Homo sapiens: one gene and its partners. The protein of the gene in region 5 interacts with the protein of the main gene of each other region in a pairwise test. Each region holds a gene or a part of one and is shown on either strand. Other genes may lie near its edges.

Region 1 (4,534 bases), on a different chromosome or scaffold from region 5:
AAGGCTCATACAGTACCTAGAACATAATGGCACTTGGCAAATGAGGGCTACTCTTCTCATAAAAGAGAGACTGGAGTTTGTATAATGAAGGGAATGAAGGTCACTGAGTGCCCAGGGCAGTGGCTGAGTCAGGGAGAACATGATGTTTTTCCTCGGGGGAGAGCGTTGAAGCACTTTCCTGTATCCAGAGATCCGTCCACAAAAGCGGAAAAAGGGGCCAGCCCCCAAAATGCTGGGGAACGAGCTATGCAGCGTGTGTGGGGACAAGGCCTCGGGCTTCCACTACAATGTTCTGAGCTGCGAGGGCTGCAAGGGATTCTTCCGCCGCAGCGTCATCAAGGGAGCGCACTACATCTGCCACAGTGGCGGCCACTGCCCCATGGACACCTACATGCGTCGCAAGTGCCAGGAGTGTCGGCTTCGCAAATGCCGTCAGGCTGGCATGCGGGAGGAGTGTGAGTTTCTGGGGCTGGAGTGGGGAAGAGGCTGAGGGGAAAGAGGGGGCCAGGGTGTGACCCAAAACAGGTGCCTGAACTTGCAGGGGCTAACTGATCCCTAAGTATGGATCCCAGTATCTTTCTTGACCGGGCGCGGTGGCTCATGCCTGTAATCCCAGCACTTTGGGAGGCCGAAGCGGGTGGATCACCTGAGATCAGAAGTCCGAGACCAGCCTGGCCAACATAGTGAAACCCCGACTCTACTAAAAATACAAAAATTAGCCGGGTGTGGTGGTGAGCGCCTGTAATCCCAGCTACTCAAGAGACTGAGGCAGGAGAATCACTTGAACACGGGAGGTGGAGGTTGCAGTGTGCCAAGATCATGCCACTGCACTCCAGCCTGAGCAAGTGTGAGACTCTGTTTCAAAAAAAAAAAATCTTCTTGCCTTTACCCAGTGCTGTCTGCTTTTCTGGAGCCCCAAACCACCCCCTTTGCCCCATCCTTCCCTCCTGTCTTTCCCCCACCCCCTTGCCCCATCCTTTCCCCATCTGCTCCCTTCCTCATATTTGGCCCTGTCCTTAGGTGTCCTGTCAGAAGAACAGATCCGCCTGAAGAAACTGAAGCGGCAAGAGGAGGAACAGGCTCATGCCACATCCTTGCCCCCCAGGGCTTCCTCACCCCCCCAAATCCTGCCCCAGCTCAGCCCGGAACAACTGGGCATGATCGAGAAGCTCGTCGCTGCCCAGCAACAGTGTAACCGGCGCTCCTTTTCTGACCGGCTTCGAGTCACGGTACTTGACACACCTGGGGAGAGGCGGCTGCGCCCAGATCACCAGTGGGCTTCTTGATGTCCGACTCAAAGCGCTTTGCCTTTTCCCTCCTGGGTAGCCTTGGCCCATGGCACCAGATCCCCATAGCCGGGAGGCCCGTCAGCAGCGCTTTGCCCACTTCACTGAGCTGGCCATCGTCTCTGTGCAGGAGATAGTTGACTTTGCTAAACAGCTACCCGGCTTCCTGCAGCTCAGCCGGGAGGACCAGATTGCCCTGCTGAAGACCTCTGCGATCGAGGTGGCTGGAGAAGGGCAAGGGATGAAGGGAGAAGCAGAGTGGGATTATCTGTGGGAGGGGCCTCCAGACATCGAGCTGGGAGAGCCAAATCTGCTGGGAAGCAGGGATGAGGAGAATCGGCCTCCCTGGAAGAGGCCATGCTCCAAGACCAGCCCTCCTAGTCCCCGTTTGAGGTTTGCTGCTTGTGTGCAGGTGATGCTTCTGGAGACATCTCGGAGGTACAACCCTGGGAGTGAGAGTATCACCTTCCTCAAGGATTTCAGTTATAACCGGGAAGACTTTGCCAAAGCAGGTGAGAACTGAGATCACACAGGGATTGGGGTTGGGTGGACAGATGCTTCTTTTTTTATTTTTTATTTTTAAAAATTGAGGGCCAGGCGCGGTGGCTCATGCCTGTAATCCCAGCACTTTGGGAGGCCGAGGTGGGCAGATCACCAGGTCAGTAGATCAAGACCATTCTGGCTAACACGGTGAAACCCTGTCTCTACTGAAAATACAAAAAATTAGTCAGGCATGGTGGCACGCGCCTGTAGCCCCAGCTACTTGGGAGATCGAGGCAGGAGAATCACTTGAATCTGGGAGGCAGAGGTTGTAGTGAGCCAAGATCGCACCACTGCACTCCAGCCTGGGCAACAACAACAACAACAACAAAAATTGAGATAGAGTCTTACTATGTTGCCCAGGTTGGTCCCAAACTCCTGGCCTCAAGTGATCCTCCTGCCTCTGACTCCCAAAGTGCTGGGATTACAGGCGTGAGCCACCCACCATGCCCGGCCAAGTACTTTTTTTTTGTTTCATTTTTTTTTTTAGACAGAGTTTGCTCTGTCACCCAAGCAGGAGTGCAGTGGCGTGATCTTGGCTCACTACAACCTCCGCCTCCCGGGTTCAAGCAATTCTCCTGCTTCAGCTTCTCAAGTAGCTGGGATTAGGTGCACCACCATGCCCAGCTAATTTTTGTACTTTTAGTAGAGACAGGGTTTTACCATGTTGACCAGGCTGGTCTTGAACTCCTGACCTTAAGTGATCCATGTGCCTCAGCCTCCCAAAATGCTGGGATTACAGGCATGAGCCACTGAACCTGGCCAGGACTGGTGCTTTTTGTCAGAGGCCCATAGTGACTACAGAGCCACAGGCCCAATGTTTGGGTGGCTGGTAAGGGAAGGCTCCCTTGTTTTTTGAAGATAGAAAATTGGAATGCTGATAGGCTTCTCTCAGCTGCTCCAGATAGACCCCTGTCCTCTGTTGCTTTAGGTCAGTGGTTTTCAAACTGTATTCCAAGGAACCTGAGAGATATATGGAATGGCACCTTGGAGGAGAAACAGGGAGGCACAGGAATGTCCTTCATCTTTACTTTAGCCAAACAAGAAGCTCCATTTAAATCTGCATTATATATTGCACTGCTACATAGTATTTTGCTTGCAGATTTTACAGCTTGAAAAAAAAGTTTGAAACTCAGTGCACTCAACTTTTTAGTAGTCAAAAAGTGAACAAATCTTCCTCACATGTGCTCTTTGGGGATCATGGGGGCTGATTTCCCCTACTTTTTTTTTTTTTTTGAGATAAGTTCTTGCTCTGTCACGCAGGCTGAAGTGCAGTGGCATGAACGTGGCTCACTGCAGCCTCAACCACCTGGGCTCCAGTAATCCTCCTGCCTCAGCCCCCAAGTAGGTGGGACTACAGGCATGCACCACCATGCCAGGCTAATTTTTATATTTTTTTGTAGAGAGTGGGTTTCGCCATGTTGCCCAGGCTGGTCTCAAAATGGTCTCGAACTCCTGAGCTCAAGTGATCCACCCACCTCGGCCTCCCAATGTGCTGGGATTACAGGCATGAGCCACCACACACAGCCTCCCCTACTCTTTTTCTTTTTTTTTCTTTTCTTTTTTTTTTTTTTTGAGATGGATTCTCACTCTGTTGCCAGGCTGGAGTGCAGTGACGCGATCTTGGCTCACTGCAACTTCTGCCTCCCGGATTCAAACGATTCCCCTGCCTCAGCCTCCTGAGTAGCTGGGACTACAGGCGCGCGCCACTACGCTCAGCTAACTTTTGTATTTTTAGTAGAGATGGGGTTTCACTGTTTTGCCCAGGCTGGTCTTGAACTCCTGAGCTCAGGCAATCCGCCCGCCTTGGCCTCCCAAAGTCCTGGGATTACAGCCATGAGCCACTTGTCCAGGCCCCTCCCCTACTCTTTTTCAATTGCACTTTCTGACGAACCAGAACCATGGCATGGCAAACATGCCCAGAGAGGATGTACAATAAGAGCGAATGCTTCCATCTCCATCCTATATCTGAAGTATTTTCTCCAAAAATTAGTTCATTCTGCGGCTCTCTATCTGATGCTCGCTTGGGAGCTACGCAGAAGGGGTTTCTTCATATTCAACTATTGATAATGTTTGTATCATGAGAACTGGCCTGGGAAAGGACGGGAGGCTGAGGGAGTTTTGGAGGGACTGGAATTGAGCTTCAGCAGGAAACCAAGTAGCTTAACGACTGGATGAGTGGGGCTGTAAAATATGGCTGATGCCCTGACTCCACTCTCAGGGCTGGTAGATCTGTGGCCAGGCCAGTCATCAAGCCTTCCTTGGTTTCTGATAACTCAGGCCAGCTCACGTGCCTCTTGCTCTCCCAACGCAGTCCACCCAGTGAGCTTTCTAGGAAGGCCACTCTTCGCTGTAGGGCATAACAGGGCTATGTTGGCACCTTTTGCCTTCTATAGTAACCGGTGTGCTGCCTGGATGTATTGACACCTAATGGGGTGATTTAATGACTTTATCCAGCTTTAAAGCCCAGCCCTGCTCCCCTCTTCCAAACCACTTTTTCCTCGATGGTTATTATCTCAGACCTTCTTAACCGTGGCTCTCCCCTCCTTCAGAATATCCTCCTTGTGGAACCCTGCCCAGTTCTAAGATCTTTGTATTCCTTTGGCACTTGTAGACTCATGCTATCTGAATCTGCACCTATTCATAGATTTATTTATACAAGCAGTTTTGAAGTAATCATGCTTGCATTTCTTATTTCATGAGTGAGG
Region 2 (3,249 bases), on a different chromosome or scaffold from region 5:
CTGGCTGACAAGAGCGAAACTCCGCCTAAAAAAAAAAAAAAGTTGCAATAATATTTCCTTGAACCCCGTTTTCCCTGAGCATAGTGTACAGCTTCACCTGCACCTCGGGGTTTTAATTGGAAGGCTCCCATGCCAAGTAAAATTTGTATTATATTAACTTGTATCCGTTTCTCCTGTTGATGTCTCAAATGAACTCTCAGGGCAAGCCAAAAAGAATAATAATGATTTAACTCCCCATACTGTCACAAATAAAGCTTTCGTACACTTTTGTCAACAAGTTGTTTCCTTTGTCCCTGTAGTTTTGGTTTTGCCTCAGCACACAACCATTTTCTGTTTTGTTGTTTTGAGACAGGGTTTCGCTGTCACCCATGGAGGAGTGGAGTGGCGCGATCTCGGCTTACTTCAACGGCTGCCTCCCAGGTCCAAGCGATTCTCCTTCCTCAGCCCCCGATATAGCTGGGACTGCAGGAGGGCGCCACCACACCCGTATTTTTGTTTTTTGGTTTTGTACTTTTAGTGAAGACGGGTTTTCACTATGTTAGGCAGACTAGTCTCGAATTCCTGACCTTTGTATAAGTAACCCGCCCTCCTCGGGCTCCCACAGTACTGGGATTACAAGGCGTGAGCCGCCACTATCGGCCATTTTGAAGACAATGGCCAAGACACAAAAGCCTAGTTTAGAAGAGCCACCGGCCCTGCCCCCATCCCCTAACCCTCCACCCTCCTTGTTTTAGGAGACATTACTCCCTAGTGCTACGGCGCTTTCAACTGAAATTGTTGGTGGCTCTGAAAAGAGCCTTTGGTTTAAGTTGGCGCACACCCTCAGTACAACTTATGCCCTCTCTCCGCGAATGCGGCGAGCGAGCTGGATGTCCTTGGGCATGATAGTCACTCGCTTGGCGTGGATAGCACACAGGTTGGTGTCCTCAAAGAGCCCCACCAGGTAAGCCTCGCAGGCCTCCTGCAGCGCCATCACAGCCGAGCTCTGGAAGCGCAGGTCGGTCTTGAAGTCCTGCGCGATCTCACGTACCAGACGCTGGAATGGTAGCTTGCGAATCAGTAGCTCAGTCGATTTCTGATAGCGGCGGATTTCACGGAGGGCGACAGTACCAGGCCTGTAGCGGTGGGGCTTCTTCACGCCACCGGTGGCTGGCGCGCTTTTGCGAGCCGCCTTAGTGGCCAGCTGCTTGCGCGGGGCTTTGCCGCCAGTGGACTTACGAGCTGTTTGCTTCGTGCGTGCCATAGGAATGGGTTTCAAGCAATGGTCACAACTGAACAAACAGTTGTTCTTACTCCTATTTATAAAGGCAAAGTCCTTCTGATTGGTCCGAATCTTCCAGTTTCGCGCCCTGAATTATGTAGTGTGATAGGACTTGTGATCAGCTACTAGGTCTCATTTTAGAAAATCTTAACCTATCTAAATGCTTTTTTCCCCTAGTTCCTTACATTTTATTATGTTTTATGTGCCTACCTGTATTACGTACCTTCATTGATTTTATTTTAATCAGTTTGTTTGGGATTATGTTTGACAGACGGAAATGAACGTTCTGCAGTTCCGGAGCGATTCAAAAATACCGCGTTTGAGAGTGATTGGTCCAGCTCAATGTCTCCTTTATATTTTTTAAAAAACTCTTACTTTGAAGAAATATTTTATTTTTAATATAAGTACCCTATTTCATATATTCTGAACCTTTCAACAAACACTGGTTTCACTTCCAGACACTCCGTTCCTAGGGGATATTAAAATCCCATCGCTCTTGAGATGTGTTCATCCTTTGATTACTGAAAAAGCTTAAATTTTTATGTAAGAATGCTAATGACCTTGATCAGATTATAAAAGAAAGCCAATGGTATAATTCTGGAAACACGTAAATCTTTAGCTAATTTCCATTTTAGAATTAGTTATTCATAGATAATTTTAAATCCGGAAGCTGCAATTTGGTAGGAAACTAGAAACATAATATCCGTCTTTGTTTCTGTTTAAATTCTCACCTAAGGAGACAGAACTTATAGGTAGATGTTACTGGCAAGGCATTAGTTTTTCTAATGTTTTGAATGAAAAACTACGTTTTTTCCCCCGGGAGGTGTAGAAAAGGATTTAGGGTAGGTTTCGCATAAATATCCAATCAAAAAGTAGACTTGAATTTAACTTTTTTATTGGCTGATTTGGTCCAATCAGGGATTGAGAATGATTAAGCACCTATTTGCATAAAAGACCTACAAAAACGGCCAGCTGTGCTGTTGAGCCTTCACTTTGGGGTGTATTCTTACTCCTTTATCTTGTTGCAATGCCTGATCCAGCTAAGTCCGCTCCCGCCCCGAAGAAGGGCTCCAAGAAGGCGGTGACCAAGGCGCAGAAGAAGGATGGCAAGAAGCGTAAACGCAGCCGCAAGGAGAGCTACTCCGTATACGTTTACAAGGTGCTGAAGCAAGTCCACCCCGACACCGGCATCTCCTCCAAAGCCATGGGGATCATGAATTCCTTTGTCAACGATATCTTCGAGCGCATCGCCGGCGAGGCTTCCCGCCTGGCTCATTACAACAAGCGTTCGACCATCACCTCCAGGGAGATCCAGACAGCCGTGCGCCTGCTGCTGCCTGGGGAACTGGCCAAGCACGCCGTGTCCGAGGGCACTAAGGCCGTCACCAAGTACACCAGCTCCAAATAAATGGACGCATGTTCAAACCCAAAGGCTCTTTTCAGAGCCACTTAATGATTTCAATTAAGAGTTTTAATGCTGGGTGCTGCTGTATTCTATGGGAGAAGTGTCGCCAATACAGGTAAAATTTTCCTACATCACCTGTTTATTCTGTGCGTTTGACAAACACTAAGCTTTTAGAGTTTATTTGTCTTTATAAAGGTGGGGTACAACTACATTGTTCAGGCTGGTCTTAAACTCAAGCGCTGGTCTTAAACTCAAGCAAGTTTTCCCACCTCGGCCTTGCCTTGTATTACTGAGCAGATAATTTGACACAGCAGGAAAAGTGGGCATTCTTGTTTAGGAACCAAAAACTAAGTTTGCAACTTAAAATGCAATCAATTTGGAGCAACACGTCCACCAGTCTAGAGCTGGTAAGTTTGAGTATTCAAAATGAGTTGAAAGTACATTTAGTGCCTATAATAACCCACTCTAGATAGCATAATGTGGTCTTTGTAGGAGTCTCGTGGAAGTTAATGTTAACTGGGATATTGTAGTTTACCAAGTACCTGAGAAAAATTTAAATTTCTTAATAGATAAGGATTAGGAG
Region 3 (4,534 bases), on a different chromosome or scaffold from region 5:
TGTACTTTATCTCTTTTAGTGGTATATTGCTGATGAAATTTCTTTTACAAAGAAATTTGATTGTGCTTTGCAAGGCTTTGTAGTTTTGAAATATTTGGAGCTGATTCATTGTGGAATTGTGGAAATAAATAGGCTTAAAATTGGTTTAGACTTTTTCATAGAAGGCTCTTAATACCTCAAAATTTGTTTTGATCCATTCTGTCATTGTGTTTGCAATGATTTTAAAGTAAAATAACTTTTCATTCAGTAAATATATATTGATCTTACTGAGTGCCAGGAATTGTGCTAGGCTAATTTTAATGGATGTTTTTCAAATCTATTCTCATAATCTTAGCACTCACAATGATCTTGGGATTGCACAGTGCTCAATAGTTTATAAAATTTAATATTTTTCTTCTGATTCTTATGCCCCTGCAAGGTAATGTTTTTCCGGTTGTTGACATGAGAAAATTGAGTTGCTGTAACTCACACAATTCCACAGTGTAGCCAGAACTAGAACTCAGTTCTGAGCTTTTTTTTTTTTCTTGTGTAATATATTGTCGAGTGTAGTTTTGGCATAAATCATCTAGTAGTTTTCTGATTCAATGTGTTTTTTCCATTCCATTTAGAAAATAGGGTATTCAGCAAATTTTTTTAAAACTGCAAATTTATTAAATTAAAAAAGTTCCTTTTCTTGCTTGATTCTTTTCCTTAAATTACCTGTTGCTTTTTTTTTTTTTCCCCCATCGTTGTGCTTCACAGGTATTTTAATAATGCTTTTCATTTCAGGCTTATTCAGAAAAGTTCGGAATACATCACTTTGCTCTAGGTTTAGAGATTTTCCTTCAATTAATGGCCTGAATTGCTGAGAAAAATGGCACTACAGTTTATTTTTATCTAGCTTCTGGAGAGGGGATGACTTGGGCAATATTTACTCAGATTTGTCATTTGCGTTAGCTGTATTTATTTTCAAGGAATTTCTTGACTAGAAAGCTGTTCAGTGATGGTTGAATATCTGCCTTTATTACTATTTTGTAAAAAAAAAAAAAAAACACTTTAGGTGCTGTAAATTTGACTTTGTTTTTTTTAAAGAAAGGAAAAGGGACAAAATGCCAGTATCATAAAATTAATTTGTGTCTGAGTTACTATATTCTTTGATAAAAGTTCAATACCTGTAAATTTTATGCTGGTCAGAAAAAATTTCAGTGGATCCTCCAGGTGAGCAATAACCTTAAGAAGATAAAGGTTAGATTTTAGACACACTTTAGTGTAGATTTTAGTATATAGATTTAAATATTTGTAGTTTACTTAAAATGCCAAGAGACCGAAATGAAACATTTGTCACTGTAATGTTAGGAAAGGTGACTTAACATTGTAATTTCTATACCAGATTGAAGTTGCAGAGTGACATGTGACTTTAATGTCTGATGCTTCATTTTAAAATTGTTTAGTAAATATAATTTAAGTGTATTTAAGACAGATCGCTATTTTATAGTTCAGGCCTAGAGATTTGTATTGGGTTCCACAATTTCTCAGCCTTTAGTCTCCTCCCTTTCTTTCAGTCTCCTTCATTGAGCCTTAGTTTATCTTTATAAGACACAGATGTGATTGCACCACTCACTTGCTTATAAACCTTTTATAGCTTTCACTCACTATCTACAGGATAAAGTCTAAACAATTTAGTGGGATCTGTGAAGCCATTTACAAGCGTTGATAAAAATATCTAGTCCTGTTCCCCATTACTTTCCTCTATGAATATGAGCCTTTTTGGGATCTTTTCTTCAACTCCAAACTGCATATTATTATTTAGGGTTTCTTTTTGTGATTTTATTGTTTCTATGCTTTTATTAGTGCCTCTTTTTTAACTGACTACAGGAAAATCTTATATTCTAATACTACTTTATCTCTGTATGAAATCTTTTTTTTCAATCTTGTGTCTTCCACAGAGTGTTTTGATCATATGACTAGTCTGTGCTACTTTTCACATTGTATTAGCATGGATGTGTGTATGTCTGCTTGGATTGACAGTGAACCGTTTGAAGATTGGGATTGTATGTCATGGGTTTACTCACGTGTGTATTTCATCTTGGTAAATTACGTTCAAATGTTTGAATTCAGTCATTTAACTGTGGTTCATCCACTGAAATAACTGTATATATTTCTCAACTATGTCTTCATGAAAATTAGGTAGTGAGTTTCTTTAAGAAACTTAAGATTTTTTTGTTTATCATATTTGCATTAAGTTTTATAGAATGGTTTATGTTGAGAGAACTGTGTATGTCTCAACTGATTTTTATGGTCCCATTGAGATTCCCATTGAGAATATAATGAAACCCTAGATTATCTTTCTCTCCCTCAAATTGTATTAATACACCAGAATACAAAAGGTATATGCCAGACATTCTACTGAAAACTTAGACTAGTAAGTAAAGTCACAGTGTGTATCCTCCAGCTTCTGATCCTAGAGAAACCTTTCAAATGGGGCTACGTTGTCATGTGGTCACAGGGCAATGACTTTTTCTCATTAAGTTTTTTTAAGGTCTTTGTTTTTCATTAGTTCATGGAAAAAGTAGAGTTTGATAGCTTAATGGAATAGCCCTAGCCATGAGTTTACTTTAGAGTATGTTAATAGATGCCACAAAAGAGTAGATTTCATTGTTTGATTTTAGGCTTATAGCAATAAATCTTTTCTAAGTCGGATGACTTAATACACTATGCTTATGTTTCCTTTTTATACACAAATATAATGCACCTGATTTGGTCATAGCCATCTCCACTGTTTTGTTTTGTGTTTTAACTGTGTAGTGTTAGAGATCATAGATGCAGGATTAGAAAATTGGTCTGTGGTTGTGATGAACATTCCGAGAATTTTTTTTATCCCACTCAAATAGGATGAATTGTCTTTGCAGTAACAAAACTGGAAGTGATAATTATTGTAGTTCATATAGTACTGCTCCTGTATTTGAACTCCATTGTGTTTTAAGATAAGTTGAATTTTCAGGTAGTAGGATTTATACCAGTTTTTAGAATTTTTTGAGGGTTGATTTAAATATACCACAAATATATCACCTTTTTGTTTTCTTCATCCAGACAGGTGATTTGGCTTCTGCACAGTTAGGAGGAGCACCAAACCGATGGGAGGTTTTGTCAGCCACACCTACAACTATAAAAGATGAAGCTGGTAATCTAGTCCAGATTCCAAGTGCTGCTACTTCAAGTGGGCAGTATGTTCTTCCCCTTCAGAATTTGCAGAATCAACAAATATTTTCCGTTGCACCAGGATCAGATTCATCAAATGGTACAGTGTCCAGTGTTCAATATCAAGTGATACCACAGATCCAGTCAGCAGATGGTCAGCAGGTTCAAATTGGTTTCACAGGCTCTTCAGATAATGGGGGTATAAATCAAGAAAGCAGTCAAATTCAGATCATTCCTGGCTCTAATCAAACCTTACTTGCCTCTGGAACACCTTCTGCTAACATCCAGAATCTCATACCACAGACTGGTCAAGTCCAGGTTCAGGGAGTTGCAATTGGTGGTTCATCTTTTCCTGGTCAAACCCAAGTAGTTGCTAATGTGCCTCTTGGTCTGCCAGGAAATATTACGTTTGTACCAATCAATAGTGTCGATCTAGATTCTTTGGGACTCTCGGGCAGTTCTCAGACAATGACTGCAGGCATTAATGCCGACGGACATTTGATAAACACAGGACAAGCTATGGATAGTTCAGACAATTCAGAAAGGACTGGTGAGCGGGTTTCTCCTGATATTAATGAAACTAATACTGATACAGATTTATTTGTGCCAACATCCTCTTCATCACAGTTGCCTGTTACGATAGATAGTACAGGTATATTACAACAAAACACAAATAGCTTGACTACATCTAGTGGGCAGGTTCATTCTTCAGATCTTCAGGGAAATTATATCCAGTCGCCTGTTTCTGAAGAGACACAGGCACAGAATATTCAGGTTTCTACAGCACAGCCTGTTGTACAGCATCTACAACTTCAAGAGTCTCAGCAGCCAACCAGTCAAGCCCAAATTGTGCAAGGTATTACACCACAGACAATCCATGGTGTGCAAGCCAGTGGTCAAAATATATCACAACAGGCTTTGCAAAATCTTCAGTTGCAGCTGAATCCTGGAACCTTTTTAATTCAGGCACAGACAGTGACCCCTTCTGGACAGGTAACTTGGCAAACGTTTCAAGTACAAGGGGTCCAGAACTTGCAGAATTTGCAAATACAGAATACTGCTGCCCAACAAATAACTTTGACGCCTGTTCAAACCCTCACACTTGGTCAAGTTGCGGCAGGTGGAGCCTTCACTTCAACTCCAGTTAGTCTAAGCACTGGTCAGTTGCCAAATCTACAAACAGTTACAGTGAACTCTATAGATTCTGCTGGTATACAGCTACATCCAGGAGAGAATGCTGACAGTCCTGCAGGTGAGTCTTAAGTTATGTCATGCCATAAATAAGTTCAGTGATAATACATAGAGGGAAATTTTTTGCTTTAGGTATTTATCAGCATCAGACTCACATTAGAATTAA
Region 4 (4,961 bases), on a different chromosome or scaffold from region 5:
GTGAGGCTGGGACGAGAGTCCCTTGTTTGAGGCCACATGACTAGGGACCTGCAGCCCCAGTGTTCCAGATCTTTGTGACTCCTGCTGTCGTGGCTTTAGCTGTAGCTCACACATGCCCACCTATTTTCAGGACACTTGGCAAAAGAGGGGCCAAAGAGGGCAGTGGGAGGGGGCGTGGCCAGCGGGAAGGAGCTGGAGGGTTGGCGCTAGATTTTGCTTGGCCGGAGTTTTTTTACCATTGCCTGGCAGAAGCACGGAGTCCAGGATTTCCTGGTGTCCCTGGCTCACGGCCTGGGGTGGTGGCCCCACACACCCCACACACACACACCCCACAGAGCCCTGCCCTGCTGTGGGCACCGGTGGTGGGCAAAAGCTTGGGCTTTGTCAGACCAGGTTCCCATTCCCACCCCATGTCTCACCGTGCCCTGGGCAGGTCACTGCCCCTCTCTGGATCTGTTTCCTCACTTTGAAAAGGGGGCTCACCGTCATTTGACCCTCTCAGGGTCCTCAAGAAGCACCAGCCCCAGGCCTGGCATGGAGGATGTGCTCATTTGTCCCCTGCCCCAGCTGAGCCAGGTGGGAGGAGGCAGTGGGTGCCTATCTGGGGAACCTTCCCCCTCCACCCACCTCTCCCTGCAGCCATCTCTGCAGCCAGGCTGGTGCTGAGCTCAGCTACGGGAAGGTACTGACAGACACAGAGCCAGGTGACACCTGAGGCTGGGGGAGGGGTGCAAGAGCTGACTCAATATCACCCGACATCCCCAAGTCCCCTCAGCTGCTAGGCCAGTAGCTCTGAGGACCCTCTTGTTACTAACTCATCTTCTCCCTTCCCTGCTGCCCAGCTGGCTGTCCAAAAGTATGAGGAGCTGTTCCCAGCTTTCTCTGATTCCCGGGAATGCAAGTTGATGAAAGTAAGTGCTGGGTGCTCCGGCCTCCCCCTTCCCGAACCTCAGACGGGGGTGGCTGGGGCTCCAGGTGGGACAATCGCCAAGACTTGTCCAGTAGTTCTCAGAGGGTGTCTTTGTTTTGTTTTGTTTTGTTTTGTTTTGTTTGGCCATTTGAGTCTCCATTTTCCAGATGAAGAAAGTACAACTCGGGGAGTGCTGGAGCTCAGGATGGCTAGGTGGACACACACACACACACTACACACACCACACCACACCACACACACCAAACATACACTACACACACCACACCACACACATCACACCACACCACACACACCAAACATACACTACACACACCACACCACACACATCACACCACACCACACACATCACACCACACGCTACACACACACCACCCCACACACCCCACACACACTACACACACACCACACACAGCAAACACATCACACACCACACATATCGCACACACACTACACACACACGACACACCCCTCACACAAAACACATTGCACAGTACACACACCACACGACACACCCCCCCACACACAAAACACACTGCACACACACCACACATGACACACCCCACACACACACATTGCACACACACTACACACACCACACACACCCCACACACACACCGAACACACCACACACGCAACTCAACACACACCAAACACCACACGTGCCCCTACACACCACACCCCAACACACACACCACACACACACACACCTCCACCACACACCACACCCAACACACACACCCCCCATACCCACACACACACACATTCTGTGTGATGTTCTATGTTGGTAAGGTTGCCCTGAGAGCAAGCCGTTTCTGATGAATAGGGCAGCAGGATCGCAACACGCCCGTACCCATCCCCAGTTTAACCCACACGGATTGACCCTCTGAGAGTCCTCAGGAAGCCCCAGCCCCAGGCCTGGCATACAGATAGCGTGTCCTTTCATCTAATCCAGGCCAGACCTCAGGTCAGCATAGGCCCCTGACCCCTCTCTGCCATTTGCTTGCAGAAATTGCTAGAGGCCCACGAGGAGCAGAATGTGGACAGCTACACCGAGTCGGTGAGTGGCCAGCATGGGGGGCCAGGCCCCTTCACGGGGATGGGTCTCCTAGGAAAGCTGCCCTTCTCAGACACGCTCTCCATGACATTCACCCATTTCATCTGGCCCCCAGCCCACTGTGAAGTTCTTTCTCCAGTCACCCCAGAAACCTTACAAGTAGCGCCAAGAGGCGCAGGGAGTGTTCTCCCCATTTTATAGATGGTGGCACTGAGGTTGGGGAGGTCAGGAGGCTCGGCCTTGGCCCCTCAGGGACAGAGCTGGTGTTCAGAGCCACATCTGTCTGCCTCTGAAGACCAGGGTTCCTTGAGTCCCCCAGGTGAGTGTGTGAGACTCACAGTGGGCGCCTTGGGCACCCAGGAGGCACAGACGGGGAGGGAAGGGGTGAGAAGGAGAGTGGAGCTGAGGACATGGGAGAGGTGCCAGCTTCCCTCTGCCTGGTGGAGCCGCCCACGCGGCTCTCTCTCCCTTCCCTTTCTCTGTTCCCAGCATTCCCGGGCTTAGTGGTGTCCGGCTCAGGTCCTGATTCACTCCTCTAATGGCACATGTCAAGCATTTCTCCCTAGGTGCCCCTTGGGAATGGAAGCCCCTAACTGAGGACAGTGAAAATGCCATCCTGTTCCTCCTGCCCCAGACAGTGGGTGGCAACTCAGCCAGGAGCTCAGGGAGGGGATGCCCAGCAGGCCGTGGCTTCTCTCCCCCGTGTCCCATGGCACTCAGGAGTGGCCTTTTCCATATCTCCAGGCCTCAGTTTCCCACCCATTCAGTGAGGATGCTGGACTTTTTTTTTTTTTTTTGAGACGGAGTCTCGCTCTGTCGCCCAGGCTGGAGTGCAGTGGCGTGATCTCGGCTCACTGCAAGCCCCGCCTCCCGGGTTCACGCCATTCTCCTGCCTCAGCCTCCCGAGTAGCTGGGACTACAGGCGCCCACCACCACGCCTGGCTAATTTTTTGTATTTTTAGTAGAGACGGGGTTTCACTGTTAGCCAGGATGGTCTCAATCTCCTGACCTCGTGATCCGCCCGCCTCAGCCTCCCAAAGTGCTGGTATTACAGGCGTGAGCTACTGCGCCCAGCCATGGACCTTTTTTTTTTTTTAAAGCTACAATATCTTTCTCCCCCAAGGGAAATGATGTGCCCAGCATAGTCAAGACAGACAAGAGGGAGCTCCCATGGCTGAGTTGGGGCCTCAAGCCCTCCCTCTACTCCTCCTCAGAGACCAGGGGTGACAGAGACAGATCTTGAAAACCTTGGGACAAGTGCCCTTGGGCTGCAGGGTTGGGAACGGGGGGAGCATGGCCAGCCTATCACCTGGTGTGCCCTCAGGTGAAGGAATACGACTCCATCTCCCGGCTGGACCAGTGGCTCACCACCATGCTGCTGCGCATCAAGAAGACCATCCAGGGCGATGAGGAGGACCTGCGCTAAGCCCCACCCAGCCCCCCAGTGCCCGTCTTCCTGTCCCATCTGCTCAGAGAGAGGTGGGGCCGAGACTTGCTGGAGAGCTTCCCTCCTTTCCCATCTGGGGAGTGCCGCGGGCCACAGTGGGCAGGTGGCACCGGGGGTCAGCATGCAGGGGCGCCAGAGGCCCAGGCTGCTGGCCGGACAGTCACCCTCTGTTCTCGCTACATCCCTTGCCCCCTGTCCATTTATTTAAGCCCCCATAGGTGCCCTTCACCCCCAAAACCAGCTGTACAGAATCTTTGATACAGACCTATTTGCTAGGGGTGCTGCCGGGGATTTGGGGTCAGCATCTGGCCCCCTATCTCCTGACCAGCTGAGTCATGAGGCCGGTTTCTCTCTCTCTCCCACTTTTGTCCCCCAGCCAAGCTCTAAAGCACATGTAGCCGCTGAGACCTGCTGTTTCTGCTGGGGGCAGGCTCCTCTTCCCCCAGCCCCGGGAGCCTCCCCCAGCTTCCTGCAGCCCCGACCTCTCAGGTTAGACCCTGGGCCCTGGAGCTTAGGGGATTCTCCCCACCCCAGCCCCACACCTGCTCCTTCCCTAATGCTTTGAGGTTTTCTTGGTTGGAAGCTGCAGCTGGCCCAAGAAAGAAAATAAAAAACAACACTTTTGCATGAGTCTCTCTTCCTCCTCACCTCTGCTACCCACTCTGCCCCTGGGCCAGTCACCAGTCCCTCTCACACTCCTGGTCCCCCAGACTCTGGGCGAGCTCTTGGGAGGTCAGGCGCATGCATCCTTGAAACACGTGTGGGCTGGGTCAGTTTCTAGGTGGGGGAGACCCAGGGACGGTGGGCCTGGGGAGGAGCTCTGGCTTGGGAGTCCCAGAGCGCCCATCTTGATCTTTCTCTGGGTTCTTGGGGTCCAGGGGCCTTGATTTCCTCAACTGGGATGCACGGTGGTGATGCCACCCCTCAGAGCCAGTGGGAGGGTCGAATGTGACGGTCCTCATGACTGCTTTGGATGAGAATGGGTGGAAGCCCACCGAATCTCCCATGTCCACATTTCTCTGGCAGGAAGGCTGAACGCCCCGGTGACAGTTGTTCCATCTGTCACAGGACGGGGGAGGAAGCGGCTTTGGTGGGCAGAGTCTGAGGCCCGAGTGGGTCTGGGGAGTGGGGGAGGAGATAGCAGGAGCCTTTGCCCAGGAAAGGTGGGCAGAAACCAGCTGCCTCCACCACACTCCACAATGTGCATGTTGGGGGCCCTGTCTGGTACACATGTGCTTTACCCTGCCCCGCGCAGGGCCCCTCGCTACAGAGGAGACAGCTGAAGGAGGCTCAGTGCCCAGGCATGATGGGAAAATGTCAGGAAGTGAGCAGGGGCAGTAATTGCACAGAGGAGGGGCTGCCTAGGAAACCAGGGTGGACTCCTGGGAGAGGGGCTCCAGCCCAGAAAGCCTAGAGAAGTGCAGGTGAGGTTCAAATTCCTTGACACCTGCCCTGCTCCTCTCTCCCCTGCAGCTTCTCCCACAGCTCCAGTCCACTGATAATGGCAGCAAAGACTTCTGAGACCTGAA
Region 5 (4,534 bases):
TACACAGGACATTTCAAGTGGACATGAAACATCTTGTGATGTGGAATCATGCCCCAAGCTGATGGCTAAACATATGAAATACCATACCCTAAATTTAGTAGATTTAGTCTTTGCAATTTAGGAGATAACCTGTTATATTGTTAGGTTTTTGTCGAAAAGCTTTGTCCTCATATTTCCAACTTGCTGTAAAATTTGTTTGTGAAGACAAATATTTTTGTATGGGTTTTTTCTTTTTCATATTAAAAAGAAATGTCCACATTGGAATTTTTTTGGAGTTTTTAGAGCTAATAGAGCTTTTCATAATGTAGTGGGAATGAGTGATCAGTAAGCTCTTAGCAGTTTCCATGCGTGCATTTCTGTGCCTTGAAATAAATGACAGATGAGTACATTTGTGTTCTGTGTGTAAAATGTGCTCTTTCCTCATTGCACTTCCATGTTGGAGGGCTTGTCTCTTGGTGATCACACTTCAAAATTCTCACAGCCCCCCTTGAACCGTTTAGGTGTTAGACGGTACCGACAACCAGTATTTGGGCCTGCAGATTGGACAGCCCCAGGATGAAGATGAGGAAGCCACAGGTATTCTTCCTGATGAAGCCTCGGAGGCCTTCAGGAACTCTTCCATGGGTATGTGGACTACAGGTGATGCGCTACAAAGTGGTTTGTATTCAGACCTGGACATCTTAATTATATCTTTGCTTCCAAGAAGAAGTCCTTTGATACTGTTTTCTGAGTTCTGAATAGCTGATGAAAATGACCAATTGAGGAATAATCATACTTTTTCTTGATCTAAATCTTATACTTTTGAGTTATCTTAGCATAAATGTATAATTGTATTTTAAGTGGAAATTTGTCACTTAATCTTGATTTCTCTGTTTTTAAAGCCCTTCAACAGGCACATTTATTGAAAAACATGAGTCACTGCAGGCAGCCTTCTGACAGCAGTGTTGATAAATTTGTGTTGAGAGATGAAGCTACTGAACCGGGTGATCAAGAAAACAAGGTGAGGGACATAGGCTTGAGACGACTTGGTGTTTCTGAGCTTGTGTGAGGATTTAAAATCGCCCTGGCTACTGTCTACTTTATTGCTTTCCCATCCCTGGGCCTTTAAATTTCCCCTTTAAATACCAGCTCTTCCCAGGCCTGTTGTTTTCTGCCTTTCCAGGTACTACCCACAGCCTTGAGAATTGCCTGAGTTCTGCCTCCTTTGAGAGTGTGCCCCAGACAAATCTATTCTGTACTGAATGTTTCCTTGTCTGATTTCTTGGATCATTCATTTGATGGTTGCGTATGGCCTGCAACGTTTCTTGTTTTGGTTCTACTGAACTGTTCTAAAAGTCTCTCTTCATATTATCTTTTTACATGTAAATGTAACTGTCTTCACTTTTAATTCCTCAAGGACAAGGAATAGCGTTTCACAGTTCGTCCCATCAATCAGAATTATAGCCTTTGGCATCTCCCTATCTACCAGGCCCACTTCCTCTTAGATTTGGGCTTCCCCAGGCTGTTGCCTTTCCCCAAGTAGCTTCTGCTTGTCCTGTAGAAGACCTTTCATGCTTTGCTTCTGCAGCAGCCGTTCCTGAATGCCTAGTGTCAACTGCCTTCTTACCACGCCCACCCTCCCTGCATGCTGCATTTATCCCCTGCCACAGCCCTGTGACCCTGTGTCCTGCTGCCTCTGACTTGTCTGTTTCTGCTTGGCCATGGTCTCTGTGAGGTCAGGTGTGCATATGGGCACAAACCAGGGCATCTCTTTATCCCCAGCACCTGGCTTAAGTGCTGCTCTGGAACTATCTGTTGAATGAACTAATGCATGAATGTATTGTTGAGTATGAGACAAACAAGTGTCATTGTCTCCTTTCTAGCCTTGCCGCATCAAAGGTGACATTGGACAGTCCACTGATGATGACTCTGCACCTCTTGTCCATTGTGTCCGCCTTTTATCTGCTTCGTTTTTGCTAACAGGGGGAAAAAATGGTGAGTACAAAAGGGGATGTGCACAGTTGAAGGAAATAACTAGGTTTCAGAGGTCAGCTTGGTGGCCTGTTTTTGCCTTGCGTGCAGCAGAGGAAGTAGAATCTGAGGATGAGTTTGGTTTTCACTAGCCGAGGGGAGGGAGGAAATGATGGGAGCAGGTAGGTTATTGGGTCTGGTTTTGTTCATTTGAAAACAATCTGTTGTTTGAGGCTGAAGGTGGCTTGGGTGATTTCTTGGCAGTGCTGGTTCCGGACAGGGATGTGAGGGTCAGCGTGAAGGCCCTGGCCCTCAGCTGTGTGGGAGCAGCTGTGGCCCTCCACCCGGAATCTTTCTTCAGCAAACTCTATAAAGTTCCTCTTGACACCACGGAATACCCTGGTATGTTAAAAGTTCACATCTTATTTTCTCAGATTTAATCATTATTGTAAAAACTATTTCAGTATTGACTATTTTAGTTTTAGAGCAGTAAGTGTTTTGAGTTCATTTGGGATATTTGACCTGCGTTGTAGCTCTTCAGAAAACACATGAATAGTGAAGTTCTTTGTTTCATGGGTTCCCTTTAGATGAAACCCATAGAGGAGAAAAGTAGAAACCTCAGCACGTAAGAGCCAACATATATACACATCGGATTTAAACCTAAAGCACAAATTGTGCCTGGTCGCAGTGGCGCTGAGTCGCACTCAGCCAGGCCAGGCATTCACACTCAGGGTGAGTGGGAACCAGGACTGGCTGAGGCAGCAGTGGACCCAAGTCTCCATCGCGCCCATGCTTACTATGGAGCCTTCTCGTTCTCTCTTTTTCTTTGGGTGAGAGGGTACACTTGTGTTTTTGAATTTATATGAGGTAAGTGTGTAATAGGGTTTTTTCTAATCTTTTTTAAGTGGAATCTGGAATTTTAATCAGATTTATTATCTGACAACCTAGAATTATAATCCAGAAAGTCTGTGGTATTGAGGACATATTGGCAATATGATGAATCTCTAATTCTTAAATCCTGAAACTTTTTTTTTTTTAATCACTTAGGGTTATTATAGTGAAGTCATTTCTGAATTTGGATCTTCTCTTCACACCTCTTTTTCTCTTTCCTGAGAATTAAGCTTTTGTTTCGAGTTAGAAAGTTGATAGTAGGGAATTGTTCCATGGCTGAGCAATTTATCTCCACAGAGGAACAGTATGTCTCAGACATCTTGAACTACATCGATCATGGAGACCCACAGGTTCGAGGAGCCACTGCCATTCTCTGTGGGACCCTCATCTGCTCCATCCTCAGCAGGTCCCGCTTCCACGTGGGAGATTGGATGGGCACCATTAGAACCCTCACAGGTAACGGCCAGTTTTTCAGCTGTGTTTTTTCTAGTTATGCTTACTAAGGTTTAAGTTTAGATGATGATGTTTGTTGCTTGTTCTTCTGGTTAGGAAATACATTTTCTTTGGCGGATTGCATTCCTTTGCTGCGGAAAACACTGAAGGATGAGTCTTCTGTTACTTGCAAGTTAGCTTGTACAGCTGTGAGGGTGAGCATAATCTTCTGTGGAACCATTTCTTCACTTAGTGGACATTTTATCATTGCTACAATTAAAATTGGAGCTTAATAGGAAATATTTCCATGCACTCTAAAGCTGTAACCAGTAATACCCACCATGTATCCATCTCTCAGCTTTAGAAAGAAAACGTTGCCAGTAAAGTTAATGCTTCATAAACTTCAGTTTAAGTTCTAATTCTCAGAATATTTGTTTGAAATAGACCTCTTCCTAAAGGATATATTTAGAAATAACCTATCATTAAGTGTAAAGTCTGTTGAATATGCTGGGCACGGTGACTCACACCTGTAATCTGACCACTTTGGGAGGCCAAGGTGGAAGGATTGCTTGAGCCCAGGAGTTCAAGACTATGGGCAACATAGTTGACCCTGTCCCTACAGAAAATTAAAAAAAAAAAAAAAAAAAGTAGCTGGGTATGGTGGTGCATACCTGTAGTCTCAGCTACTCGGGAAGCTGAGGTGGAGGGGGGATTGCTTGAGCCCCAGAGATCAAGGCTGCAGTAAGGCGTGGTTACACCACTGCCCTCTAGCCTGGGCAACAGAGTGAGACTGTCTCAAAAATAATAGTAATAATAATCAGTTGAATTAAAAAAAAAAAAAAAAAAACCACTGTGCTAGGCCCATAGTATGGTAAGAGTTAAAGTGAGCCTTAGGGATTATTTACTCAACCTCTGTTTCTGTATAAAGTGGAATAGGCTCAATTCTTTAAGTGATAGCATGTTGAACCTTTCCATACCAACTGGCTCATAAGTCACAACTGGCCAGTCAACAAGAGTAAAAATTAACTGGTAAAAATCAAAGCAAAAAACCTACAATTGTCAAATTTGTGGGATAACTCCCCCTTTTAAAATGTCATGCCTGACAGTAATTTCTCTCTAGTTTCCAGGTTTTCAGTCAGTTGTGTCTTTTTTGAGCAGAAGGAAGCATGCTAAGAGCTCAATCTTGTGGCTAGCTGGGGGTCTTTGTGTCAGCCATGCATGTGATGGTGCCCCTGGGTGCTTGGGGCTGCAGGGGAGGGGT
Region 6 (4,534 bases), on a different chromosome or scaffold from region 5:
AAATTGTTTAACCACTTTCAAATCTGTTTCTTCACCTATAAAACGCAAATTGTAATTCATGTTTATCTCAAGAAACTATTATGAAGTGACAGCATTATTCATTTATTTAATAACCATCTACTGAGTACTGGTAGTGGGCATTTGTTATTTTGAGGCTGGCCTCCATTTCTGCTAAAAAGACCCAGATTATCCTTCAGGAAAATTCCATTTTTAGCCATATTATTTGGATAGGATTTGTCCCCATCCCCAGATCCACGAGTGAACTGTGACTGACTTAATCCAATCAGCATATTTTATTACTCAACTACGTAGTTCAGGGTTTCTGCAATAGGCATGTTACCAAGTCAGAAATGGTTATATGCAAAGACTCATTTGTTAGTTTGTAGGAAAGAGCAATCAGAAGAAAAATCTAAGAATATGACGGTGTGGTATAAGAATGTATAGTCTACAAAAATTTAATAATCAACTTGCTACCATAAGGAGAGAGTCAGAAGCTTCTGGAGAGACTATAGTGTGGAGCCTTAAGATGAAGCCAACGTTATGACTGGCCAGAAGGATGGAGAGAAATCACTGTGCCATCTCTTGAGCAGCTAGATCAAGCTTTGCCTGAAGTCAGAAACCTAGCCACTTTTCAGTTGCGTGAATAATTCTCTATGCAACACAATATTATACATAGCAATATAAATGAGTATTTAAAATCCACTAAAGTTGTTTTTTTCTGGGGGGTGCTTGCAACTGGAAGATACTTCCTATATACAGTGCAGTGTGCTAGACACTAAAGTGTAGTAAAATGAAGTATCTACCTTTGATAAGTTTAGAGTCTAGCCTAGGAACTCAGGATTATTATAGCACTATGAAAGCTAACCATCACATATAAAAGCATGGACCCCCTTCATTTCTTGATAAGAATGTCTATTGGTGTTTATAATGAGTATTGTGATATTCTTAAAAGGATTATTCTGGAGTGAACCTGAACAACTCACCAAAGAGAACCTGGGGAAATGAATGGAATCAGCATGTCCTTTTAATAGGCTCAGGTTATTTTAATATTTATATTCTGTAAATGAGGTGAGAGCCAAAGGCATCTTTCACACAGGAAAAAGCAATTTAGTGGGAAGTCCAACAGGGGTTAAGATCTTTGAAATAAGATGTTCTACCTCTGACAGTATTCTAGCTCTGACAGAAAACTGACATGAAATAGAATACCATCTGCTATTGCAGTTACGTGGCTACTGGTAAGAACTGAACAAAATAAGAGCTAAGTCAAGCTTCAACAGAGTAGTAACAGTCATGCCAACCAGCTAAGAGATATGCTTCAAGCAACATGAGTAGGACTTGATAAAGAATCCCTGAAGTATATGGGAGTTCCAGAGGCCAGAGGCATGGAAACCTCCAAAAAGCCAAAAACGAAAACTGAACAAAACCAGCCCAGCCAACACCTTGATTTTAGCACTGTGATACCCTGAGTATAGAACGCAGTCAAGCCCACATGGACTTCTGATCTACAAAACTTGAGTTAAGAAGTGGGTGTGGTTTTTAGCTGCTAAGTTTCCATTACTTTGTTACGCAGCAATTGAAAATGAATACAGCGTGCTTTACTCAAAGTCTGAGTCTCTATTGAATCCAATGTCACTTTATATAATAAAGCTTTTTCCTTAATGGTAACAAGAGAGAAACTGGAATCATTTTTAGGTGAAAGTTAAACATGTGAAATGACTGCACTGATAGAAATCTACATCTATATATACACACATTTATATTTACATATATATATATAACAGGACAAAAGGAAAAGGAGGAGGCTGTATCAGTTTCCCATTGCTGCTTACAAATTACCACAAACTTAGTGGTTGGCTTAAAACAACACAAAAGCATTATCTTAATAGTTACGGAGGTCAGAAGTCTATAATGAGTCATCAAAGCCATGTTCCTTTTGGAGGCTCTAGAGTAAAATCTATTTCCTTAATTTTTCCAACTTCTCAAAGATGCCTGCATTCTTTGGCTCATGGCCCCTTCCTCCATCTTCAAAGCCAGCAAGGTAGCATCTTTCAATGCTTTCCTTGTATAAGGGACCCTTGTGATTACATTGAACCCACCCAAATAATACAAGATAATCTTCCCATTTCAAGATCCCTAACTTAATTACATCTGCAAAGTCTCTTTTGCCATATAAGGTAGCATTCACAGGTTTTGGTAATTAGAATGTAGGCATTTTAGGGTGCATTATTCTGGTAATTAGAATGTAGACATTTTTAGGGAGCATTATTCTATCTACCACAGGGACTATTATTAAAACCAGTTCTTTGAATACACTTTAGGGAGTAGCAAAAAGCAGACTGTTTTATTTGGAAGAAAAAGGACTAATCAGACATTAAAACCTGTCCTCCAGAGAGTATTACTGAAGTATTTTTAAAGTATTTTACCTACCTAATACTTCAAAAAGAAGTACAGTTTTCTGTGCATGTTCACGCCAATACTTCATGCTTTCAATAACTGCAGAAATAATTCTTAAAGAACTAGCTTTTTCCTTAAACTGTAACTGATACAATGAGGTTTCCTTTTGAAAAAATAAGAAACATAGTATTAGAAAAATATTTGTTTTTTTCATCATACTCGTTTACCTTCTACGTAAAAATTCTAAGTCCTTACAATGGACAAGTGTGTAAAAAGAACTACTGAAAATTTTAGTATAGTTACTTCCCTAAAATAAGGCCATCAATACTATATTACAGATGGAGAAACCAGGGTGCACTTAGAGACAATCAAGAGGAGAATTATTTATATAGGTATTCATTCACTCATTCATTCATTGACTATTTTAAAGCATCATATGCCAGATCCTGTGACAAATATAGGTAAGGCCATTCCTTTCCCTAGTGCACTCACACTCTAGGGGACTCTAGGGAAGGAGCCAGACACATTCATTCATTCATTCGTTTCAAAAGTGTTTACTGAGCACCTACTACATGCCAAACATAGCTATTTAGGAAAAATTCATGGACAAAACAGTCAAGATATCTGTCCTCGAAGATTTTATTGTCTAGTGGAGGATTTAAAAAATAAGTAAACATATAACAGAATGTCAGGAAATGTACTTTTTTTTTAGGAAAAAAACACACAAGGTAAATGGAAAGAGAGAGAGATGGGGGTTATTATTTTAAGTGGGTTGTTGAATGAGGACAGTGGGAACAGCAAGTATAAAAGCCCTGAGATGGAAATGTTCTTAGCATTTTTGAAGATCAACTAAGAATACAGTGTGTTAAAATACTAATTTTCAAAGGCAAGGGGACGCTTTCCTTTGTGAGGGTGAGGGTTGTGAAGAACATATGATGGGACCTTTTTTCAAAATACAGGTAGTTTCTTCCCTCTTCCCCCGCTTAACGAAGATTCTAACATGCCTCCTGTTGATGATGGCCACAGTAAACCACTGTTACTAAGGTGATTATGTCATATAATTCTTGAGTACAAGGAAACATAAGATTGAGAACCACTGTGAAACATGCTTTATTAATCTTATTTCCAACAAAAAACAAAACATGCAAAAACAAATTTTACCCCGATGGCTTTTTGAAAAGATTGCTTTTTCAGACATAAGGGCAGAACAAAAACTAACAACTGTAAGAAGTTGTTACCATTCCTAGGCTGAAAGGACAAGAGGAGAAAATAAAAGTATCACGCCCAGGAAAGCTATACTCATGAAGGGGCTACATCATGCAGTGACACAGCCACTGCTGGTGATGTAACATTTAAGACAGGAGAAAGTGAGAAAACCCAACCTTTCCTCCCACCCTATGATGTCGTACCAGTGACTCCTACTGGCTGACCTCTAGCAAAAGCCAGCAAGTAAACAATCTCAGGATGATGCACTACATAGGACAGTTCAGCCTTCCACAACAGAGAAGGGCAGGTGAAGAATCAAGTGGGCCAAGGGGCCAGGGAGCAGAGATGAGGAATAACCAGCACACATAATATATAAATAACATTTACAAAGAGCAATCAGAGCACTGAGCGTAGAGAGGAAGTACAGTTGAGATACAGGTATAGGGAAGAATATAAACCAAAGCACAGAGTGTATGCTATGTTTAGAGAATTGTGACGAGTCTGAAGTGGCTAGAGCATTGGACAATTAGTAGACTATGAAATATGAGGCTACAAAGGTAGACTAGGACAAGATCATAAAGCAAAGGTCATAATAAGTTGATCATAAAGAAAACTATGGCCTGCAGTGCAAATCTAACCTGCTATCTATTTGTGTAAACATTTGTTGGAGGAGAGCAGTGTCCATTCATTTATGTATTGCTTATGGCTGCTTCCAAGCTACAGTGGCAGAGTTGAGTAGTATTGCTGAGTAGCTGCAACAGAGACAGTACGGCCCATAAAGCCAAAAATACTGTCTGGCCCTTTAAGAAAAATGTTTGCTGACCTCTGTTGAAAAATACTTAGAATGACATATCAAGAGCCTGGGTAACTTCATAAACAATGGATAAACTGTCTTTATCTTTAAAATGAGTGTAAAGTGAAAGTCAGAATCCAG
Region 7 (4,534 bases), on a different chromosome or scaffold from region 5:
TGAAATAGCCGGGCACAGTGGCTCACGCTTGTAATCCCAGCACTTTGAGAGGCCGAGGCGGGCGGATCATGAGGTCAGGCGATTGAGACCATCCTGGCTAACACGGTGAAATCCCATCTCTACGAGAAATATTTAAAAAAAAAATTAGCGGGGCATTGTGGCGGGCGCCTGTAGTCACAGCTACTCGGGAGGCTGAAGCAGGAGAATGGCGTGAACCCGGAAGGTGGAGCTTGCAGTGAGCCAAGATCCCGCCACTGCACTCCAGCCTGGGGGACAGTGCAAGACTCCGTCTCTAAAAAAAAAAAATTACGAAATAGAGTATGATGTAGGGAGAGGGACTCATATGGGTCAGGTCAGTCATTGATTAACCCTGGTTATTCTCCAATAATATTCTGTTTCCTTCCATTTACTGCAAGTCCTTTCCAACCATACTCCTGTATCCATTTTCTTACTGAATTTTTCCACTCACAACTTCTTTATCATCCTAAGCACTCCACTTAAACTACATTCTTAGGTATCACCAGCTTCTTTTCAGTCTTTGATTTATTTTTCTCTTTTAACCTATATGTGTCATTTGACACTTTTTATCACTTTGAAACTTTCTTCATTATTGGCCTTTGTTATTATCTTATTCTCTTGCTTCTCTGACTATACACTGTTTCCTTACTTCTCCATTTCTTAACATCCAAGTCTCAGTTTGTATCACTTGAGTGATCTTCTGTCCTTTCAGAGATATCATTTACCTTTATAGCTTCGTCTGTCACCTTCATGAGATTAATTTTCAAATTTCTAGGCAGGTCTTGTTTTTCCACCTCCAGAAACATATTTAACTATTGGCTAGAAATTTCAACTTGGCTATCCCATATCATTTAAAACCAAACTTAACAAAAATGAAAGAAAACCAAATTATCAACCTTTCCCCAAAACTGACTTCCTTTTCTGACTTTCCTGCCTTTGTTTATTTATTTATTTATTTATTTAAATTTTTATTTTTTTAATAGAGAAAAGATTTTGCCATTTTGCCCAGGCTGGTCTCAAACTCCTGAGCTCAGGTGATCCACCCGCCTCAGCCTCCCAAAGTGCTAAGATTACAGGCATGAGCCACTGAGCCCAGCTGTTTCCTACCTTTATTAATGGTTTCAAAAGTTGGTTTCCAGACTCAAAATGAGTTGTTATTGAAACTTTTCTCCATTATCATTCATATCCAGTTTGTCACTAGGGCCCACTTCAAATGTTATTTTTGTCTTTGCACTATCACTCCATACTATATTTTAAACTTCTTGAGGACAGAGACAGTATATTATGCTTCCTTACATTCTTGCAATTTTTAACCAGTAACATATACATGATATATTGAAAGATTTTAACTTGAATGAAGTGAAGGAATCAGGGTTCCTTCTTTCTCCTTTTCTCAAAGGTACTGCTAAAGTCAGACAGCCCAACAGGTGATGTTTTACTGGATGAAACTCTGAAACACATCAAAGCAACTGAACCCACAGAAACTGTCCAAACATGGATAGAGCTACTCACTGGTAAGATGACTTAAAATAATATATGAATTTCACACTTTGTTATCTTTATCCTACCCTGAAATTTAGTAAAAGATGTACCGAAATTCATCGTGCTGGATGAGATAGATGTGGTTCACTATTTAATTCTAATGAGGGACAGAAAAAGCATGGTTAATTGATACCTAAAGTTTTCCAAAGCTTCACCTTATCTTCTGCCACCCCACCCCAAAAGCCCTTAAATAGTATTCTTCACAAGAAACTTTTAAAACATCTTTATTGAGAGGACAATGAGAATATTGGCATTGATGCAGTCTATTATTCTTATTAGAATTTCCCAGTTTTAATTTGCCAAATAATATTTTATTGCATGGCCATACCACATTTGTTTATCCAGTCATCAGTTGATGAATCTTTGAGTTATTTCCACATTTTGGGTATTGTGAATAATGCTGCTGTGAACACGCACGGACAAGTTTTTGTTTGAACATGTTTTCATTTCTTGTGGGTATGTAGCTAGGAGTAGATAACTGGGTCATATGTAAATCAACGAGTAACATTCTTACTGTGGTAAAATATACATAACATTTATTATTATTATTATTATTTCGAGATGGAGTCTTGCTCTGTCGTCCAGGCTGGAGTACAGTGATGCAATCTCAGCTCACTGCAACCTCTGCCTCCCGGGTTCAAGCAATTCTCCTGCCTCAGCCTCCCAAGTAGCTGGGATTACAGGCACGTGCCACCACGCCTGGCTAATTTTTGTATTCTTAGTAGAGACAGGGTTTCACCATATTGGCCAGGCTTGTCTCGAACTCTTGACTTCGTGATCTGCCCGCCTTGGCCTCCCAAAGTGCTGGGATTACAGGCGTGAGCCACCGCGCCCAGCCAACATTTATTATTATTTTAGCCATTCTTAAGTGTACAATTCTGTGAAATTAAATATATTTGCAATATTTTGTAACCGTCACCTCTATCTATACTATACCCAAAGCTTCCTCATCATTACCCATTAAAACTCTGTACCTATTAAATGATAACTTCCTCTTTCTCTCTCCCCCCAGTCCCTGGCAACCTCTATTCTACTTTCTTTTTCTATGAATTTGCTTACTCTAGGTACCTCATATAAGTAGAATCATACAATATCTGTCATTACTTTCCCTAGCTTATTCACCAAGCATAATGTTTTCAAGGTCCATTCATGTCACAGCATATATCAAAATTTCATTCCTGTTTATGGCTGAGTGATATTCCGTTGTATGTATATAACACTTTCGTTTAACCATTCATCTGTTGATGGACACTTGCCTTGTTTCCACCTTTTGGCTATTGTGAATAATGCTGCTGTGAACATTGATACACAAATATCTGTTCAAGTTCCTGTTTTTAATTCTTTTGGATATATACCTAGGAATAGAATTGCTGGGTCATATAGCAGTTTTATGTTTAACCTTTTGAGAAATCACCAAACATTTCCACAGAGACTGCACCATTTTATATTCCCACCAGTATGCACCAGGGTTCCAATTTGTCCACATGCTGATCACCACTTGTTCTTCTCTTTCTTTTCTTTTTTTTAATTATAGACATCCGAGTAGGCCTAAAATGTTATCTCATTGTGGTTTTGATTTTTATTTTCAAATGAAAATAGTTTTCATGTCATTCCTAATGACTAAAAATATTGAGCATATTTTTATGTGCTTACTGACCATTTATATATCTTCTTTGGAGAAATATAAAATACTTTTCCCATTTTTAAGTTTGATTGTTTTGTTGTTGTTGAGGTTTTTTTGTATTTATTTATGAGATGCGGTCTCACTCTGTCACCCAGGATGGAGTGCCGTGGTGCAATCTCGGCTCACTGCAACCTCTATCTCCCGGGCTCAAGGATCCTCCCACCTCAGCCTCCCAAGTAACTGGGACTATGGGTGCGCACCATCACACCTGGCTAATTTTTTGTGTTTTTGGTGGAGATGGGGTTTTGCTATGTCACCCAGGCTGGTCTCTGAACTCCTGAGCTCAGACAGTCTACCCATCTTGGTCTCCCAAAATGCTGGGATTACAGGCATGAGCCACTGTGCCTGGCCAGAGGTTCTTTATATATATTCTGGATATTAATCTTGCCGAGACCAGCTCAGTTGTGGAGACCCTAACCCAGTGGCGCTAGAGGAATTAAAGACACACACACACAGAAATATAGTGTGGAGTGGGAAATCAGGGGTCTCACAGCCTTCAGAGCTGAGAGCCTTGAACAGAGATTTACCCACATATTTATTGACAGCAAGCCAATCATAAGGTTTACTAAAAGTATTCCTTATGGGAAATAAAGGGATGGGCCGAAATAAAGGGACGGGCTCTGGCTAGTTATCTGCAGCATGAACATGTCCTTAAGGCACGGATCTCTCATGCTATTGTTTGTGGTTTAAGAACACCTTAAGCAGTTTTCCGCCCTGGGTGGGCCAGGTGTTCCTTGCCCTCATTCCAGTAAACCCACAACCTTCCAGCATGGGCATCAAGGCCATCACAAGCATGTCACAGTGCTGCAGAGATTTTGTTTATGGCCAGTTTTGGGGCCAGTTTATGGCCAGATTTTTGAGGCCTATTCCCAACACGTCCCCCTTCTTTGTTTTACAAAGCAATAAAAGCAAAGGCAGCTTTGTCAAGGTGAGCTACTTCTCACAGAAGTCAGGATCCACACCTGCAGACTATACAGAGACAAACAACACAGATTAATAACACAATTATCATTGAAATCAAAGGGCTTCCAAGTGTTTTTATCCATTTTAATGGGTTACTAGCTGTTAATCTGTCTGCAGCTCCTTCAAGCACTCCAGTTCCTGGCATTAAGGTCAGGTGTGCCTGGGATGCTTTAAATATTTGTTCTTTTAATTTTGCAATATCCAAAGACAAGTTTGTAGAGTGTCCTTTTAGATGGTTTTTTATTCTTTCCCAAATTTGGATCTTATTAAGAGCCATTAATAGTTTCCACAAATCCTTATGTTTAGCTCCTACAGCGGGCCATATCA

Evidence for each region.
Region 1: the proteins of HTT (region 5) and NR1H3 interact in binary tests that used the Homo sapiens proteins (3 or more experiments, as listed by UniProt).
Region 2: the proteins of HTT (region 5) and H2BC9 interact in binary tests that used the Homo sapiens proteins (3 or more experiments, as listed by UniProt).
Region 3: the proteins of HTT (region 5) and SP3 interact in binary tests that used the Homo sapiens proteins (3 or more experiments, as listed by UniProt).
Region 4: the proteins of HTT (region 5) and NAPA interact in binary tests that used the Homo sapiens proteins (3 or more experiments, as listed by UniProt).
Region 6: the proteins of HTT (region 5) and SPATA22 interact in binary tests that used the Homo sapiens proteins (3 or more experiments, as listed by UniProt).
Region 7: the proteins of HTT (region 5) and GOLPH3L interact in binary tests that used the Homo sapiens proteins (3 or more experiments, as listed by UniProt).

What each region holds. Positions count from the first base shown.
Region 1 is NC_000011.10:47,260,221-47,264,754, forward strand, and holds part of NR1H3 (oxysterols receptor LXR-alpha), read left to right. Parts: intron 1-188; coding exon 189-455; intron 456-1,020; coding exon 1,021-1,229; intron 1,230-1,326; coding exon 1,327-1,506; intron 1,507-1,698; coding exon 1,699-1,798; intron 1,799-4,534. UniProt on the Homo sapiens protein: Nuclear receptor that exhibits a ligand-dependent transcriptional activation activity.
Region 2 is NC_000006.12:26,249,363-26,252,611, forward strand, and holds H2BC9 (histone H2B type 1-H), read left to right. Parts: upstream 1-2,251; 5' UTR 2,252-2,288; coding exon 2,289-2,669; 3' UTR 2,670-2,713; downstream 2,714-3,249. Other genes in the region: H3C7 (histone H3.1), read right to left, coding at 833-1,243. UniProt on the Homo sapiens protein: Core component of nucleosome. Nucleosomes wrap and compact DNA into chromatin, limiting DNA accessibility to the cellular machineries which require DNA as a template.
Region 3 is NC_000002.12:173,954,768-173,959,301, reverse strand, and holds part of SP3 (transcription factor Sp3), read left to right. Parts: intron 1-3,069; coding exon 3,070-4,429; intron 4,430-4,534. UniProt on the Homo sapiens protein: Transcriptional factor that can act as an activator or repressor depending on isoform and/or post-translational modifications. Binds to GT and GC boxes promoter elements. Competes with SP1 for the GC-box promoters.
Region 4 is NC_000019.10:47,486,738-47,491,698, reverse strand, and holds the end of NAPA (alpha-soluble NSF attachment protein), read left to right. Parts: intron 1-842; coding exon 843-911; intron 912-1,937; coding exon 1,938-1,988; intron 1,989-3,309; coding exon 3,310-3,411; 3' UTR 3,412-4,062; downstream 4,063-4,961. UniProt on the Homo sapiens protein: Required for vesicular transport between the endoplasmic reticulum and the Golgi apparatus. Together with GNA12 promotes CDH5 localization to plasma membrane.
Region 5 is NC_000004.12:3,129,424-3,133,957, forward strand, and holds part of HTT (huntingtin), read left to right. Parts: intron 1-500; coding exon 501-624; intron 625-881; coding exon 882-1,000; intron 1,001-1,862; coding exon 1,863-1,974; intron 1,975-2,214; coding exon 2,215-2,352; intron 2,353-3,138; coding exon 3,139-3,297; intron 3,298-3,390; coding exon 3,391-3,488; intron 3,489-4,534.
Region 6 is NC_000017.11:3,444,045-3,448,578, forward strand, and holds part of SPATA22 (spermatogenesis-associated protein 22), read right to left. Parts: intron 2,558-4,534; coding exon 2,428-2,557; intron 1-2,427. UniProt on the Homo sapiens protein: Meiosis-specific protein required for homologous recombination in meiosis I.
Region 7 is NC_000001.11:150,658,812-150,663,345, reverse strand, and holds part of GOLPH3L (Golgi phosphoprotein 3-like), read left to right. Parts: intron 1-1,417; coding exon 1,418-1,532; intron 1,533-4,534. UniProt on the Homo sapiens protein: Phosphatidylinositol-4-phosphate-binding protein that may antagonize the action of GOLPH3 which is required for the process of vesicle budding at the Golgi and anterograde transport to the plasma membrane.